Regions from separate parts of the Homo sapiens genome. Here region 1 is linked to region 2. A link means that fine-mapping ties the variant in region 2 to the expression of a gene that starts in the linked region. Tissue or cell type: whole blood. Region 2 holds a variant in brackets; the other region holds the start of a gene. All regions are shown on one strand. Distances are between the middles of the regions.

The links. PIP is the estimated chance that this variant, and not a neighbour inherited with it, causes the effect.
Region 1: ERP27 starts here. The variant in region 2 is fine-mapped to the expression of ERP27 in whole blood (TOPMed, PIP 0.95).

The regions. Positions count from the first base shown.
Region 1 is chr12:14,935,423-14,943,530 of GRCh38, forward strand. ERP27 (endoplasmic reticulum protein 27) reads right to left here and starts at 3,115. Exons shown (of 7, transcript NM_152321.4): 1 at 2,993-3,115; 2 at 2,530-2,630. The coding sequence starts at 3,086. ARHGDIB (Rho GDP dissociation inhibitor beta) reads right to left here. Exons shown (of 6, transcript NM_001175.7): 6 at 6,609-7,299. The coding sequence ends at 7,100. RefSeq lists an enhancer at 2,571-2,630.
Region 2 is chr12:14,956,697-14,964,804 of GRCh38, forward strand. ARHGDIB (Rho GDP dissociation inhibitor beta) reads right to left here and starts at 4,905. Exons shown (of 6, transcript NM_001175.7): 1 at 4,841-4,905. RefSeq lists enhancers at 3,248-3,357, 4,608-4,727. The variant T/A (reference allele first, on the strand shown) is at 4,858.

The DNA.
Region 1 (8,108 bases), 21 kb before region 2:
CTCATTCCTGCATGTAGGTTAGAATAATTTTAGAGCACTGAGATAATAGGCAAAAATAGGAGTTATATAGTTTTTAAAACTAACTCTGGGATTAAAGGAAAAGTATGTAAACAACTAACTATGTAGTGCTACAGATTTATAGGTGCCTTGTGACCTGACCAAGGACAAAGAAGTTCCCAACTTCCTGAGACACTTGCTGGGGCCCAGATGCCTGTGGTTGCCGGTTATCACTTGATCCCAACTCCCTCCTCTTCACCCTGCCCTTAACATACAAAGAACCTAAAATTGGTAGTGGCTTAAGATGTACTTTGTTTATTTATTTTGACACAGAGTCTTGCTCTGTCACCCAGGCTAGAGTGCAGTGGCAAAATTTTGGGTCACTGCAACCTCTGCCTCACGGATACTTGTGCCACAGCCTCCTGAGTAGCTGGGACTACAGGTGTTCACCACCATACTTGGCTAATTTTTTCTGTATTTTTAGTAGAGATGTGGTTTTGCCATGTTGCCCAGGCCAGCCTTGAACTCCTGAGCTCAGGCAATCCACCTCCCTCAGGCTCCCAAAGTGCTAGAATTACAGGTGTGAGTCACTGTGCCCGGCCAAGATGTACTTTAGGATGCTAGTCCGCTGTCTTCTTGGTTTACTGGATCTTCAAATAAACTGGCTTTTCCTCCCACCGGCTCTTCCTCTTGAGTTTTGGCTTTGGTTACATTTGTGGATGAAAGGAAAAAATGCAAAAATATGAAATAGACGCCATCAAAAGGGCCAAAAAAGAAAAAAAGAAGAAAAATAAAACAATTAAAATGAAAGCTTAGAAGTTTTAACAAAAGTTTATGCAGGTTATGGAAGGACAGTCCCTCTCTTGCCACTGTAGATAAACCTGAGCTTTGCACATGAAGATGCTGTTCACGCATTCAACTCTGCAGCCCAGGCCTGCAGGAGGCAGCAGAGAAGCCACTTGCGAACAGTGATTCCAGGCCTTCCATAGACGCTGGCATCATTTTCCCTGCTCTCACGGGACCTTTATCCATAGCAGCTCCAGGAAATTAACAGGAACAAACATGTTCTACCCTGCAAGTCCCCAGGCTGAAGGAGGAGATGTGCAAGGAGAAAAGAAGATGGCCAGTTGATATGGTTTGGCTGTGTCCTTACCTAAAATCTCATCTTTAAATGTAATCCCCATAATCCCCACATGTCAAGGGTGGGACCAGGTGGCAGTAATGGGATCATGGGGGCAGTTTCCCCCATGCTGTTCTCGTGATAGTGCATGAGTCACAAGATCTGATGGTTTTTTAAGCGTCTGGCATTCCCCTGCTTGTGCTCATTCTCTCTCCTGCCATCCTGTGAAGAGGTTCCTTCTGCCATGATTGTAAATTTCCTCAGGCCTTCCAAGCTATGCTGAACTGTGATTCAATTAAAACTCTTTCCTTTATAAATTATCCAGTTTTGGGTATGTCTTTATTGGCAGCATGAGAAGAAACTAACATACCCGTCTTGCATCTGGGGTCAAGCAGAGGGAGCTGGTATCTACTCTTCTAGAGGCCATGAACAATAATTAATTGAGGCCTCCTCTCTTATTCTGCTCCTTCAGATGGAATTGCTGGAGGATAAAATGATGGCATCTGGCGGCTGTTTAAGTTATTGCACACTCCTCCAATTCCATGCTCTTGCCCCTTCCCCATCTTTCTGACGGTGTTTTTGTCTACAGCTCAGATTTCTCATTCCTGAAAAATGTTGTCCCTGTCTTTCTCCCTGACTTGCATCTCATTGCAGTGATTTCCAACTGTGTACGCAGAACTGACAGGGTAATCAGGAGTTGTAACTGAGAAATGGAAACAGACAAGAAGGTCTGCTATGAGAGAGTAGGGGCTTGATCAGCTGTGAGGATTTCCAGATGCTACCACCAGAGAAAGATGAAAATGCTGGAATGAGGCAGTCTCATTTATGGCTGCCTTTCTTAGTCAAGAAGCTAATCTGGAAGATGGAGGTTAACACCTTGAATATACAAAATGCCATCATTTTCCAACATTTCAGACAAGGCAAAGAGAAAGAAGGAGAGTCTACCATATTTGGGGGAAAGGCTTTAAAAGGCTGTGCACTGACTAATGTCCAGGATGTTTGGCATCCTGTAAACAGTGTTGCTGGATGATATAAATTGGGTTCACTCTGGCCCCTGCCTATTCATAGGGTGCTATGAGAGTATAGACCAAATGTGTTTAGGACAATGGTGGGGTTCCATGAAGGCATTCTTTCTGCAGATACTGACTTGAGCTTCAAAGCATCCATAGATGAGGAGATGCAGCCCACAGGCTCAGAACTCTTGAAGTAAGTATGAGAAAGATATAATTTAGAGACTGGGAATGTCTTGAAAATAAGAGGTCCCAATGGACAAGATGAAATCAAACTGGGTGGCTGTCTCCCTTTACCCCCACTTCTAATGCAGTGCCATCTGCCAGCAGCAGGTGGCTGCTGTGGTTCCCTTAAGGTAGAACATTTCTGGCTCTTGGGGGAATTGCAAGTAGGGAACTAACCTGGAAGAAGCCTATGACAGCCACCTCAGTGGCAGCAATGAATTCCATGGCAGCTGGGACATCTGTGAGCCACGTGGGTTCCTGGGCAGCACCAGGACCATCTAGAGAGAGAAGCAGAAGATGTCAGGGTACTGAGGCAAGAAGAAGCAGCTCTAAATAATGAGGGCATCTATACCTTTTATCTCTATACTAAGGGCAAGAAGAGCACAATTTATAGGAGTACTGTTGGCATTCCAAGGCATAATATTTTTACTAACATATGGAAGGTGACCCTACTGATGGTCTGTCTCTGAAGGATACTGCCAGACTTCCCTACTCTCTACCAGGCAAAATGCACTTATCCAGGATTTCCTGGAAAGCTTTCTAGGTGTGGAGGAAAAGTACCCAGAGAACCACCATGCTCCCTTTCCTTCTCCTAATAACACTTTCACACTATAGCCACCCAACTACATTTTTCTTTTACCTGAGGATTTCTCAACTTCTGCAGCAACTTCTGCAGCCAGCTCACACGTGAGGAGAAATAAGAGGAACATGAACCTGGACGGGGCAGCTTCCATTGTCCCTCTCCTGCTCCTGCTCCAACCCTGGACTTTGTGTTGGGGAGGCCGACTCAGGGCAGCCTACTCTGTAGCTGATTGGCTGTGGGGTTGTTAGGGCTTTGGGAACTTTGCAGCTGGCTCCAGGGGAGCCTTCAACTTCTGAGATAAAAGACCAAGGTTAGTAATAGGGACTCAGAACATATCCAACCAGAAGAAAGTCAGGTCAGTTTATTTAAATAAAAAATGTAAATATGCTATGCCAGGCATTGATCCTAGCGCTAAGAATAGAAAGATAATTATGATCTGATCCAGCCTCTGCCAGCTTAGATTATCAGTGGGAGAGATGGGCAAGTAAAAAGATTATTTAAATATAAGATGGAAAGTGATATAGAAAAATTCATAGGGTGCTATGACAATACATATTAAGGGTATTAGGGACAATGCTAGGGTTCAATGAAAGTGTTCTTCCTGCGGAGGATGCCGGAGCAGAGTTCTGGGTAAGTAAGATTTTGCCAGGCAACACAAGGTAGAAAGGGAGTTTCATGTAAAGAACTAAAGCACAGGCCGGGCGTGGTGGCTCATACCTGTAATCCCAGAACTTTGGGAGGCTGAGGCAGGTGGATCACGAGGTCAGGAGATTGAGACCATCCTGGCTAACATGGTGAAACCCCATCTCTACTAAAAATACAAAAAATTAGCCAGGTGTGGTGGCGGGCGCCTGTAGTCCCAGCTACTCGGGAGGCTGAGGCAGGAGGATGGCCTGAACCCGGGAGGCAGAGCTTGCAGTGAGCCGAAATAGCACCACTGCACTCCAGCCTGGGCGACAGAGCGAGACTCCGTCTCAAAAAAAAAAAAAAAAAAAAAAAAGAACCAAAGCACAGATATGCAAATATAATGTGTGACAGAATTACTAGTAATTGAGAATGATGAAAAGGAAGGAAGTGATACATGTGGACAGAAAGGCATGTTGGGACCAGCTCACAGCAGGCTTTATATGATACACTAAGCGCGGGAGCATCAATTTTATTCTGTAGGTGATGGGAACCACTGAAAAGTCTTAAGCAGAAGAATGAGATGAAGTTTGATTTTGCTCACAAGTGTCTGAGGAAGTCCAAGATGAGATTTCCACAGGCATTGGGATATGTAGTTTTAAGCTTAGGAGAATTTTCATGTGAAAATATTACAAAAGAAATTAGGAAGCCCTAGCCAGGGCAATTAGGCAAGAGGAAGACATAAAAGGCATCTAAACAGGAAAAGAAAAAGTCAAACTATTTCTCCTTGTTGACAATATGATTGTATGCCTAGAAAGCTCTGAAGACTCTGCCAAAAGGCTACTGGAACTGATGAATGATTTCAGTAAGGTATCAGGAAAAAAATAAGTGTACAAAAATTAGTGGCATTTCTATACAGCAATAATGTCCAGGCTGAGAGTAAAATCAAGAACACAATTTCATTTACAATAGCTACAAATAAAATGAAATGCCTAGGAATACAGATAACCAAGGAGGTAAAATATCTCTACAAGGAGAAATACAAAACACTTTTGAAAGAAATCAGAGGTGACACAAATGAAAAAACACTCCATGCTCATGGGTAGGAAGAATCAGTATCTTCAAAATGGCCATACTGCCCAAAGAAATTAACAGATTCAGTGCTATTCCTATCTAACTACCAACGTCATTCTTCACAGAATTAGAAAAGAAACTATTCTAAAATTTATATGGAACCAAAAAAGAGTCTGACTAGCTAAAGCAATCCTAATCAAAAAGAACAAAAACAGAGGCGTCACATTACCCAACTTCAAACTATACTACAAGGCTACAGTAACCAAAATAGCATGGTACTGGTACAAAAGCAAACACATAGACCAATGGAACAGAATAGAGAACCCAGAAATAAAGTCATATACCTACAACCATCTGATCTTCGACAAAGTTAACAAAACCAATCAATGGGGAAAGGATTCCCTACTCAATAAATGGTGCTGTGATAGCTGGCTAGCCATATGCAGAAGAATGAAACTGCACCCTCATCTTTCACCATATAAAAAGTTAACTCAAGATGAATTAAAGATTTAAGACCTCAAACCATAAAAGTCCTAGAAGAAAACCTAGGAAATACTCTTTTTGACATTAATCTTGACAAGTAATTTTTGGCTAAGTCCTCAAAAGCAATTGCAACAAAAACAAAAATTGACAAGTGGGACCTAATTAAAGAGGTTCTTCAGAGCAAAAGGAACTATTGATAGACAATCTACAAAATGGGAGAAAGCATATGCAAACTATGCATCCAACAAAGGTCTAATATTCAGAATCCATAAGAAACTTAAACAAATCAAGAAGCAAAAAACAAATAACCCCAATAGAAAATGGGCAAAGAGCATAAACAGATACTTCTGAAAAGAAGACACACAAGAGGCCAATAAGCCTACAAAAAATGCTCAACGTTACTAATTATCAGAGAAATGCAAATCAAAGCCAAAATGAGATACAATCTCACACTAGTCAGAATGGCCATTATTAAAAAATCAAAAAACAACAGACACTGTGAGACTGCAGAGAAAAGGGAATGCTTATACATTATTCATGGGGATGTAGCTTAAGCAGTTACGTAGTTCAGCCACTGTGGAAAGCAACTCTAAGTAATGAGGACATCTATACCTTTTATCTCTACAGTAAGGCCAAGGAGAGTACTCCAATTTTTAGGAGTAACGTTAGCATTCCAAGGCATAATATTTTTACGAACGTATGGAGAGTGACCAGTTTGAAGATTTCTCAAAAAACTTGAAACAGAGCTACCATTTGATTCAGCAACCCCATTACTATGTATATATCCAAAGGAAAGTAGATTGTTGTACCAAACAGACATGCACATGTATGTTCATTGTTGTGCCATTCACAATAGCAAAGACACGGAATTAATGTAGTTGCCCATTAATGGTGGATTGGATAAAATATGTGGTGCATATATACCATGATATACTATATGGTCATAATAAAAAAGTAAAATCATGTCCTTTGCAGCAATATGGATGAAGCTGGAGGCCATAATCCTAAGCAAAGCAATGCAGAAACAGAAAACCAACTTCCATATGTTCTCAGTTATAAGTGGGAGCTAAACACTGAACACACATAGACATGAACATAGAAACAGTAGACACTGTGGACTACCTGAGGGGTAAGGGAGGGAGTGGGGCATTTTTTGAAAAACTATCTATTTAGTACTAGGCTCACTACCTGGATGCAATATACCCATGTAACGAACCTGCACATGTACCCTCTATACCTAATATAAAAGTCGAAATTAAAAATAGCTAACTAAATAAGTAAAATGTAGATTTCCCACTGGCTGTATTCTGAATGTGCATTGCCTATTATAGTGTAATAGGGGACCAATTTGTTCCCAAAGATGTAAATATCTCCTCCAGTGTGTTTTCCTCATCCCCATCCCCTCTGAGGGAACTCATGAATGTGAACCATCCAGTTATCATATTTGTTCAAAGCAAGAAAGCAGGGAAATGAAGGTCTCAGCCAGAACACACACAGTTATTGTTTTATTCTTGTTCTCTTGTGTCGTTTACAGTGTCTCTCACAAAAGAAGAACTCCCTCTGGCAGGGGATGTGACTAGGGACTCATTGGGCCAGCAACAACCACAAAAGAATCTAGGCATTAGAATGAACTACTGGAACCTGAGTCAAAGACCTGTTAGTGATAATTTGCCCATTTTCTGGCCTCTAGTTGCTTGAATAGGGGTAAGACAGGGAAATATTAAATGATTGTGTACTGAGATGGAGACGTGGAAGATCTGGCCCTGATGGAGGATCAGAGGGAGCAGGTTGGGTGAAAGCCCGGTTTTAAGCCTCTTGTTCTAGGGACCACGTTGAGTGACAGGGTGGGAAAAGATGCATCAATAAGGAAATGTGGCAGTGTTGAAGAGGGACCCAGCTGTGGACAGGGAGGAGGGACAGGGTGCTGAACACGCCTGAGAGAATTCTTCCAGGTGGCAAGGGTGGGGAAAGGGGTGGATGCATTCATTCTGTCCACTCCTTCTTAATCGACAGGTTCCACTCCCAGCTGAGGTGGTCTTGCTTGTCATCGTCGGTGAAGAAGGACTTGTTGTGGTACGTGCCTCGCGCCAGCATGCCCTTGGGAGCCTCCTCAACTGGAGTGAGGAACTCATACTCCTCAGGCCGAGGTCCATAGCTGCCAACCATAAATGTTGCTTTATCCACTAAGAAGAAAGAAGAGTTCATTAGGGTAAGAGCCTGATAGAGGAAAAACATACACTGCAAACTGGAGAATCTGGACTACAGCCTACAGTGATTAAAGTCAAGAGCAATGGTTTCCAAGCCTAAATAAACATTAGATTTACCTGAGGCATCTTTTTTTTTTTTTAAGATGGAGTTTTGCTCTTGTTGTCCAGGCTGGAGTGCGGAAGCACAATCTCGGCTCACCACAACCTCCACCTCCCAGGTTCCAGTGATTCTCCTGCCTCAACCTCCCGAGCAGCTGGGATTACAGGCATGCGCCACCATGCTTGGCTAATTTTGTATTTTTAGTAGAGACGGGGTTTCTCCATGTTGGTCAGGCTGGTCTCGAACTACCAACCTCAGGTGATCCACCCGCCTCGGCCTCCCAAAGTACTGGGATTACAGGTGTGAGCCACCGCACCTGGCCCTGAGGCATCTTTTTAAAAAAATTATTCTTTAAAACATTTTTTAAGTTGGAGTGCCTTTTAATAATATAGTTTCCTTTGTCCTACTTCCAAAGGCTATGGTTCAGTAACCTTCTGTGGGTCCCAGGGATCAGTGTTTTTAAAAAACTACAAAGTTGATTCTGAGGTAAAGTTGGGGAACCAGTGGCCTAAATCAATGGGGATTAAGCCTGTTTTTTTTTTTTTTGTTGTTGTTGTTGTTTTTTTTATGGAGATATAGCAGATTACACCATTTTAAAAAACTCAGACAAATTGAGACCTCAGTTCTGATCTCAGTCCTGCAATGGCCTAAGTCATATAACATTTTTGAGCCTCCATTTCTTTGT
Region 2 (8,108 bases):
AGTTTTCTGTATTTTCTGCTTCACAGATGCGCATACAGATTAACTTTCACATTGGAGGCCTCACATCCTCATGTTTGCTACTCAGCAAAGCACTGGCAAGCATTAGATGTGCTGAGATGGGGACTTAATCTTCTCAGGCTCAATTAAAATGTCGAATTAAATTAGGATGGTTACTCACAGCATGCATATGACATAGCACACATCAATGTTTTTGCTTGCAAATTCAGTGAAATTTCCAAGACTTTGAAAGTGAATTACACTTAAAAATTTACACCCATGTCAGGATAGAGCATCATCTGTTTCATTAATGCAGCTCTAAATGAACTGAGGACAAGAAAAGGTAGAACTCCTGAGTTTAGATTAAACAAATTACCTGGGTAATTCAGAGAAAGGTGACTTTCATGTCTCATAGAACATAGATTGAGTCAGATGGACCAGGGATTCAAAACCAGGCTCTGCATTATGACAGGACTCAATCAAGTTGCTAATTTCACTGAGCCTCAGTTTTATCACCACTAAAATGGGGATATTCTTTTTTACGGGGTTGAAAGATTGGAGAAAACACATGAAAAATTATAGGACTATACTGGTCAAGAATAGATGTTCCGTGAATATTTGTTCCCTTCCTCTTCTTCCTTCCCTGCCCCAGTGTGGTCTGCTTTGTTGCAAAGCTTCACTGAAGCTAGGTAACTGTTTCCACACCAAATACTTTCCCCTGGATGGGAGCTATGTCCCCACTCCTTCCTCCTTAAAAATAGATTTTTGTCTTTGAGGAGTATTAAAGAGATAAGAAGTTCTGGGGAATTGAAAGGATTGTTTAAAAACTGAATCAACCTTAAAATGAGACTATATTATATTTCTTTTAAAAACTTTCATGTAAACAATTTAATTTTAGGTTTTATTTATTGCTCCCTGTCTTCATTGAAGCCAGAGGTCACTCTGCGAATGATGAGAAATGTCAGTGAACACAGGCACAGCTAATGAAGAGAATTCCCTCTGGCTCTGGAGCAAAATACCACAGAGACTTAACTCACGGCCCAAAGCTGGATCTGCAAAATTGTGCTGGATTATGCATCTAGACACACAGGCCATGGATATTAATGTATTAGGTAGAAGAGATAGCGATGAGAGAGAGAGAAGGAAGAGGGGAAAGAGGGAGAGAGAAAGAGGAGAGAGAGAGGAGGGAGAAGGGAGAAAGAGAGAGAGGGAAGAGAGAGAGAAAAGTGGAAATACCAGAAGTAGGGGATTTCTATCAGAGAAGTTCCTATGTGAGCATCAGCATTCTCTGTAACTCCTGCTACCTCCACTTTCCCTGCTGACTAGGATATGTCTGACTTCCCCCAAATCGGGCTGTGGGTCTAGTGCAGGTCTGGAGAGTCAGGCCATCTCTAAAACACTGTTGACATTTCAGAGCTAGTCAAGGATTTGAATGTGCTGTGCTGCTTGCCTGGCAATTTGGTGTATTACGGGATTGCAAATTTGTCTCTCAGGACACCAGAAGCCTTCTTGGTTCGGGATTCCACCCTCTCCCCACCGCCCCTGTCCCTGGTGACATGGAGGAATCCATACTCCCCACTTTGCGGTGCTGCTTTCTACCACCTCAGCCCCATGAAGGACTACGAAAACTTCAAAACTGGATGAGAAAAACCAAAGACAAGATTATTTTGTAAGAGACAATAAATATTGTAATCAATCCAGAGAAGGGCACAAATTACTAGAAACGTAATTTCTTACCATTTGTCTTTGTGAGAGAAACAATTTATTATTTCTTGCCTGTGCATTTTTTAGTGTGTTTTTCTAACCCACATTCATATGCACAAAGAGAGAGAACTCAAAGAGATCCCGTGAGCTTTGCTGAGTGCCCAACGTGTGAAGTCATGCCACCAAGTACCTTCACAAATATTATTTTAAATAATTCTCAAAGAAAACTGTGCATTAAGGAAGCCATTGCCTTCAGTATCTCAATATATTCACAAAAGTTTTAAATTAGCATGAAAAGTTAGACAGAATTGAGAGAGAATTTTTTTTATGACCGTTTGTGCTAAGATTATTAGGCTCTTTAAGAAAGCCCAAGTGAATTTTTACCAGCGGTAAAATTCACTCTTTGGCTGTGGACACCAGAGAGTAACACAACACAGGATGATTCAGGATGTGCTTATTGCACAGATAAATGTTGCTGACGTTTCAGGGGCAACATGAGACTCATCTCTGGGTATGCCAGTGTAGCCTTGAATACAGGATCCCGGGCAGCAATAACACAAACCAGGAATAAGAACTCTCAAAATATGGAATTGGAGAAAATTTCTTCCATGTGATTCTTCCTAAAGAATGTGGGAGATCACCTGAGCCTCAGGAGGTCGAGGCTGCAGTGAGCTGCGTTCACGCCCCTGCACTTCAGCTCGGGTGACAGAGTGAGACTTGTCTCAAAAAAATAATAATAGGCCATGCATGGTGGCTCACGCCTTTAATCCCAGGACTTTGGGAGGCCAAGGCAGGCGGATTGCTTGAGCCCAGGAATTCAAGACCAGCCCTGGCAACATGGAGAAACCCCGTCTCTACTAAAAATGGTAAAATTAGCCAGCGTGGTGATGCGCGCCTATAGTCCCAGCTACTCGGGAGGTTGAGGCGGGAGGATCACGTGAGCCTCCTGAGTAGGTAGGACCACAGGCACGCACCACCATGCCCTGTGAATTGCAATTCAGAGGCATTGTGGCTATTGATCCTTTTTGTATCAGTATGTAATTTTAGTCAAATTATTGAACACTTCTGCATTCTTCTCAGGAACAAAATTTGAAAGTTTTTATCACCAGGCCTGACACATAGAAGGCACTCAATGAATGTTGGTTCTCCTTTTCTATCTGCATAATTTCGACTCCCCAGGGCTTCTCTTTTCCTGCTAGCTGATGTTTGTCATGTACTGTGCTCTCCCAAATCAGCTCAGACCCGTATCTTTCCCTCAGAATGACTTTGTGGTGCTGAGTGTCTACTGAAAACAGAACCTTAATGTTGCTCAGAGCTAACTTCCCTAGGGGACAAACTCATGCTCTCCAAAGCAAGGAAGGACCAAATTCCAGTCGAGGCCTGAAAAATGCTTGCCAGTTTCTGTTCAGTGACAGCATAGTTAGTCCTCAGGTTTTGCATCTGTGAAGCATGGATGGAGAAAGAACTGTCTCTTAGAATTTCACACATCTCACAAAAGAGTAAGATGCTCTTGTTACTAAGCTTGTGCTATATCTGCTTTGGGAGGGAATATATTCTTACAAATTAAAAAAACACAAAGCCAATGGCAAGATTCACGATGCCTGCTAGGGACTGGACCTCTGCCCCCTGTCTCTCCGGACCAACAGGTGCCATGGTCCTCTTGATCTCCTGTGCCTGACCATCCCTGCAGTGAAGATGGCCAGGCCAACCCTGACTCCAGGGGCTCTAGGTCTCCATGTGAAGTGGTGACCATGAGCCCTCCGGGTGAGAGCAGTCTGCCTTTCCCCACTCTGAATGAAGAACTGCCCAGGGCTTGCCAGACACACACCTCAAGTTACCATAGGTCTAGAGTTTAATTACAGATTATGTTTATGAAACATGCTGGCTGGGAAGTCCTCTAAAAGGGAAGAAAGTATTTCAGGTCATACCTAAAGCACTTCTCCTAATGGTGGCTGAAATTCAGACCTTGACATTTTGAAGGCCCACTGATCAGCTGTCCTAGCTGGGCCCCCTTGAATTTTTCTCAAACCTGTCTCTTAATACGTTATTTGGTGTTTTCCATGTTTGCTGTTAGTTATCTCATACCTAAAGGGCTATTATCATTATTAATATTTTTATTTTTTGAGCCAGAGTTTCGCTCTTGTTGCCCATGCTGGAGTGCAATGGCGTGATCTTGGCTCACTGCAACCCCTGCCTCCTGGGTTCAAGTGATTCTCCTGCCTCAGCCTCCCAAATAACTGGGATTACAGGGATGCACCACCACACCCAGCTAATTTTGTATTTTCAGTAGAGATGGGGTTTCACCATGTTGGTCAAGCCGGTCTTGAACTCCTGACCTCAGGTGATCTACCCGCCTCGGCCTCCCAAAGTGCTGGGATTGCAGGCGTGAGCCACCACGCCCAGCCCTATTATTATTTTTGACAACAACAGCAAAGATCTGCCCATCCGACTGCAGGAATTTAATACACAGCCTTTGTCAGTGGTAGAAATTCTATCACTGTATGACTCATGAGTACATAACAATGTGCTATACCATACTTCCTCTTTGAGGGATAAAGCCCCTGCACTCTAAGGGAGGATTTCATTATGCATTTCTCTTATATCACCAGAAAATTATTTAGTGGAAGACAGTTTAATATTTGACAGCTTTGAACCATTTTTTTTTCTCTTTCAACCAGTCTTTTTACATTGTCTGCTTAAAAACAGGAAACCACATATCTCCACCCCAGCACAACCCACCATCCACCAGCACAGACCGTATCATTTTGGATCTACAGTCTTTTTCTTCCAAGCCTGGCCAGGTGCCTGCTCCTACTTTGCAGGAAACCCCTCCAGGCACTCCCGGTGCGTGTTCTCAGAGCCCTTCTGAGAATATTCAGGATTGCACTTCCTGGGCTGCAGCGCACCCTGTACCCTCCTTTTTTAAGCCTCCTCCCCTGAGTCACTGCTACCCTTCCCTCCTCTAACTTCCCCTTCTCTGCAGCCTCCTTAGCAATTTCTTATCATAAAGTTTGTTTTAAAGAAGAACTGCCCCTCTAAAAAAATAATAAACTGTCGAGGGCGGTAGCCCCGTCTAGAGGTTTCCGACTTTGCTCTGTGCCCACCTGAAGCCTCCCCAGCCCGAGGTATTTGAACTTACATTCAGTGCTTCACGTC[T/A]CTGTCCGGGGTGCCTCTGTCTCTCAACTCTGACTTCTGAGTACTGGCAGTTAGAACAGGAAGGAAGTCAATGAGAAAAAAAAATGTTTTAGACCTACTTGAAGAGGAAACCCTGGGCTGTCTCAAATCCTGTTCCTTTGCACTGCCTATCTCTTGATCAGCCAACTTGAGCAGCATTCTTGTCAATTAATGGCACATGTGCGAGCATGACAGCCCGTGTGACGTGGAGATGCATGAATGTACACGCAAGAGTGTGGAGCCTATAGCTATGGGTATTATGAATAATTGTGAGGGTATTTCTGATAATCAGGTCATTGCAGTGCATAAGCCTATGGAGGTAAGGAGCCTGAAACCAGTAGCAATAAATTCACATCGGCTTTACTTTGTACCACTCACTTCTGTTCCCACTGGGTCCCCGCCAGCTTCATTATCAACCAGATACGTTGAAAGTTTGCTGGCAGTGAATGTAGAGTGCTAAGAAATGATGATTGTTAACTGCATATACTACGGTCCTAAATTTAAAAATGTGTCCTTAAACAGATTTTTGGAGTTTTGTTGGTTATAATTTCAAGACGTAGCTTTGTATTGCACTACAAACAGTCAAATATTGTTTTTAATAGTTTTGGCTGATTTTTCTTCAAATGAAACAAACAAGCAAGCGAAAGTACTGTCTTTGATGAAACCTAGGAAAGAAATTACAAAAGGAAGTAAAACTTCATTAATTCATAGTCTTCCAACTCAGAATTTGTGACAACTTAACAAGTGCCAAAATAGACTTTGTACCATATTTGAGGAAATGGTTTATGAAGTAATTTAAATGGGAACAAGTCTCGGAGGCCATGTTTAAACCATCTGAGGAACAGTTTTTAAGCAGCCAAGTCACATTCATGCTGTATATTCCCGTAGCTGTTACCAATAATAAATGCTTATTTAGGTTAATATTTCAATATTCAGTATTTACACTACATCAATATATTTAGATCTGACTAAGCACACAAATTTGGAGAAACTGACGTTTATTTTGTTTTCACCTAAATGTACTGCATCTTCTTCATTTCCCTTTGTAAATTGATACCACAGGGTTTGCCTTCTACTTAGAGTCAATGAAATCGGAATAATCAAGGGAGTCATTTCACGTGAGAAGAGATTAGCCTAGAAAAATATGAAAAGGAAAATAGTATATAATTAAAATGAGCAAAAATACTAAAAGCCTAATACCACTTTATTCTATAAATTTTAAAATAGCATAGACAGAATACAGCCCTTGAAACAATGTACATAACTTTATTGTAAAAACAAAGCAAACCCTAATTTACACAGAAGGCAGTAACTTACACATTCTATAGCTCTGCACCCTCAAGAGGGGATACATTTATTCATTCCATAACATTTATCGAGCACCTCTTTTCTTTCAAGTACTGTTCTAGTTCCCTTGTGCAGCAATAGACCGCAGGCGACATCTCTGCTGCCCTGTGGAACTTATGTTGTACCTAGGAGACAATTAAAATAACACAGGCAGAATACATTAATTGTAACAAGAAATATTTAAAAATGAAAAATGGTAAATGCATGGTCTCTATTCCACCACTCATTTCTCATGTTATTAGGGAACACCTCACTAGGCAAACCTGGCTTTTTTTTTCCCTCCAGAGCCCAGTGTATATCGGAGGGTATGGGAGCACCCCTTCCCAGAAAAATCTGTAAAATCAATACATATTTTACAGATTTGTATTATAGATTAATGTATTTATTGGGGGATGAGAGAGCATTCATAATTTTAGAAAGTTCTAAAAGGACTCCAATTATCAAAATATACTTAATTCCTGGTCATATGCAAGGAGCCACGGAAAGGTACAGAAATAAACAAGACACAGTCCTAGACCTCAAGTAGCTAAAAGATGTAATGGGGAAGACAGAAGCAGACAAATTTAATTTTTTTTTTGTCAGCATAGGAAAAGAAAAAATACATGGTGTGTTTTGAGAGTACATGTAAGGACATCAAGGAAGGCTTTTTGGAGGAAGTGACCACTGCGCTCAGTTAAGAGGGAGAGTAGGTTTTGAGTAGTTGATGAGCGAAGGGTTGGGAGTGAAAGAGAAGGCACTCGAGGTAGAGGAGAAACATGAGCAGCAACACGGCCCTGGCCTCCCAAAATGATGTGGGATATGCAGGGTATTATAAGCAAGCAGCTCAAGATTGTTGGAATGTAAAGTGGAAGTTACATGTGAATGAGAAATATACCTAGAGCAGGGCAGGCACAGTGTTCAGATCACCACGGACCTCTTATGCCATGTTAATAACGAACTCGGCCTAGATCCTATCAGTGATGGGGAACTGTTGAAAGTAAAGGATGGACATGATTGTTTTGCATTTCACTTAGTTTACTCTGGCAAACTGATGTGGTTGGATTTGATGTGAATAAAATCTATTAGGAGACTGTTTAGGCTTGAACACTCATAATGAGATAGACAGAAATGGTCAGATTTGAGAAATATTTAGGTGAAATTGGCATGCCCTGGTAATTGGTGGGATGTGAAGGATGAGGATGAGGAGGACTGTGGAATCAGGAATGACTTCTGGATTTTTTTGCTAGAATGATTGGGTCCTTGGGGGTACCCCCAAGTGAGATAGAGAATACAAAAGAAGAAATAGATGTATTAGGAGAAATAAGGACATACGTTTGGACGTGTCTAGTCCTGAGTTTGAAAAAAAATGGTGTCGTTTGTTGGAGATGATTTCTGAAAGATAGTGAAATATATAAGCCTGAATTTACATATCATCAGACTATGGATAGTAATTTAAACCAGGACACCCAAAGTGTGGCCTGTGTACCAGCAGACTACCATCACCCAGGAACTCCTTAGAAATAAATGCAAAGTCTCAGGCCAAACCTCCTACATCAGAATCTCTCCCGGAGGTTGGACCTGGAAATCTATGTTTTAAAAAGCTCTGCAGGTAAACTTTGAGGTTTTAGAAACACTGGTTTAAACTATGTAAGTGGATGGATTCACCCAGAAGGAATGGAGAAAGAGAAGTTGGCCAAGCATGGGGCAATCCTGTTAGCTCCACTTTCGGTGAATAACCTGCTGACAGCTTCTTACCTCCTCCTTGTTTAGCACCCTAGCCTACCATCATTGTGCCTCTGCTGGACTTTCATAGCATTCTCTTTATATGTTTTCTATTTCCATAATAGTCTGATTTAACCTTTATTCTCATAACAGACTAAAAAGCATACTCATAATCACATCTTTCC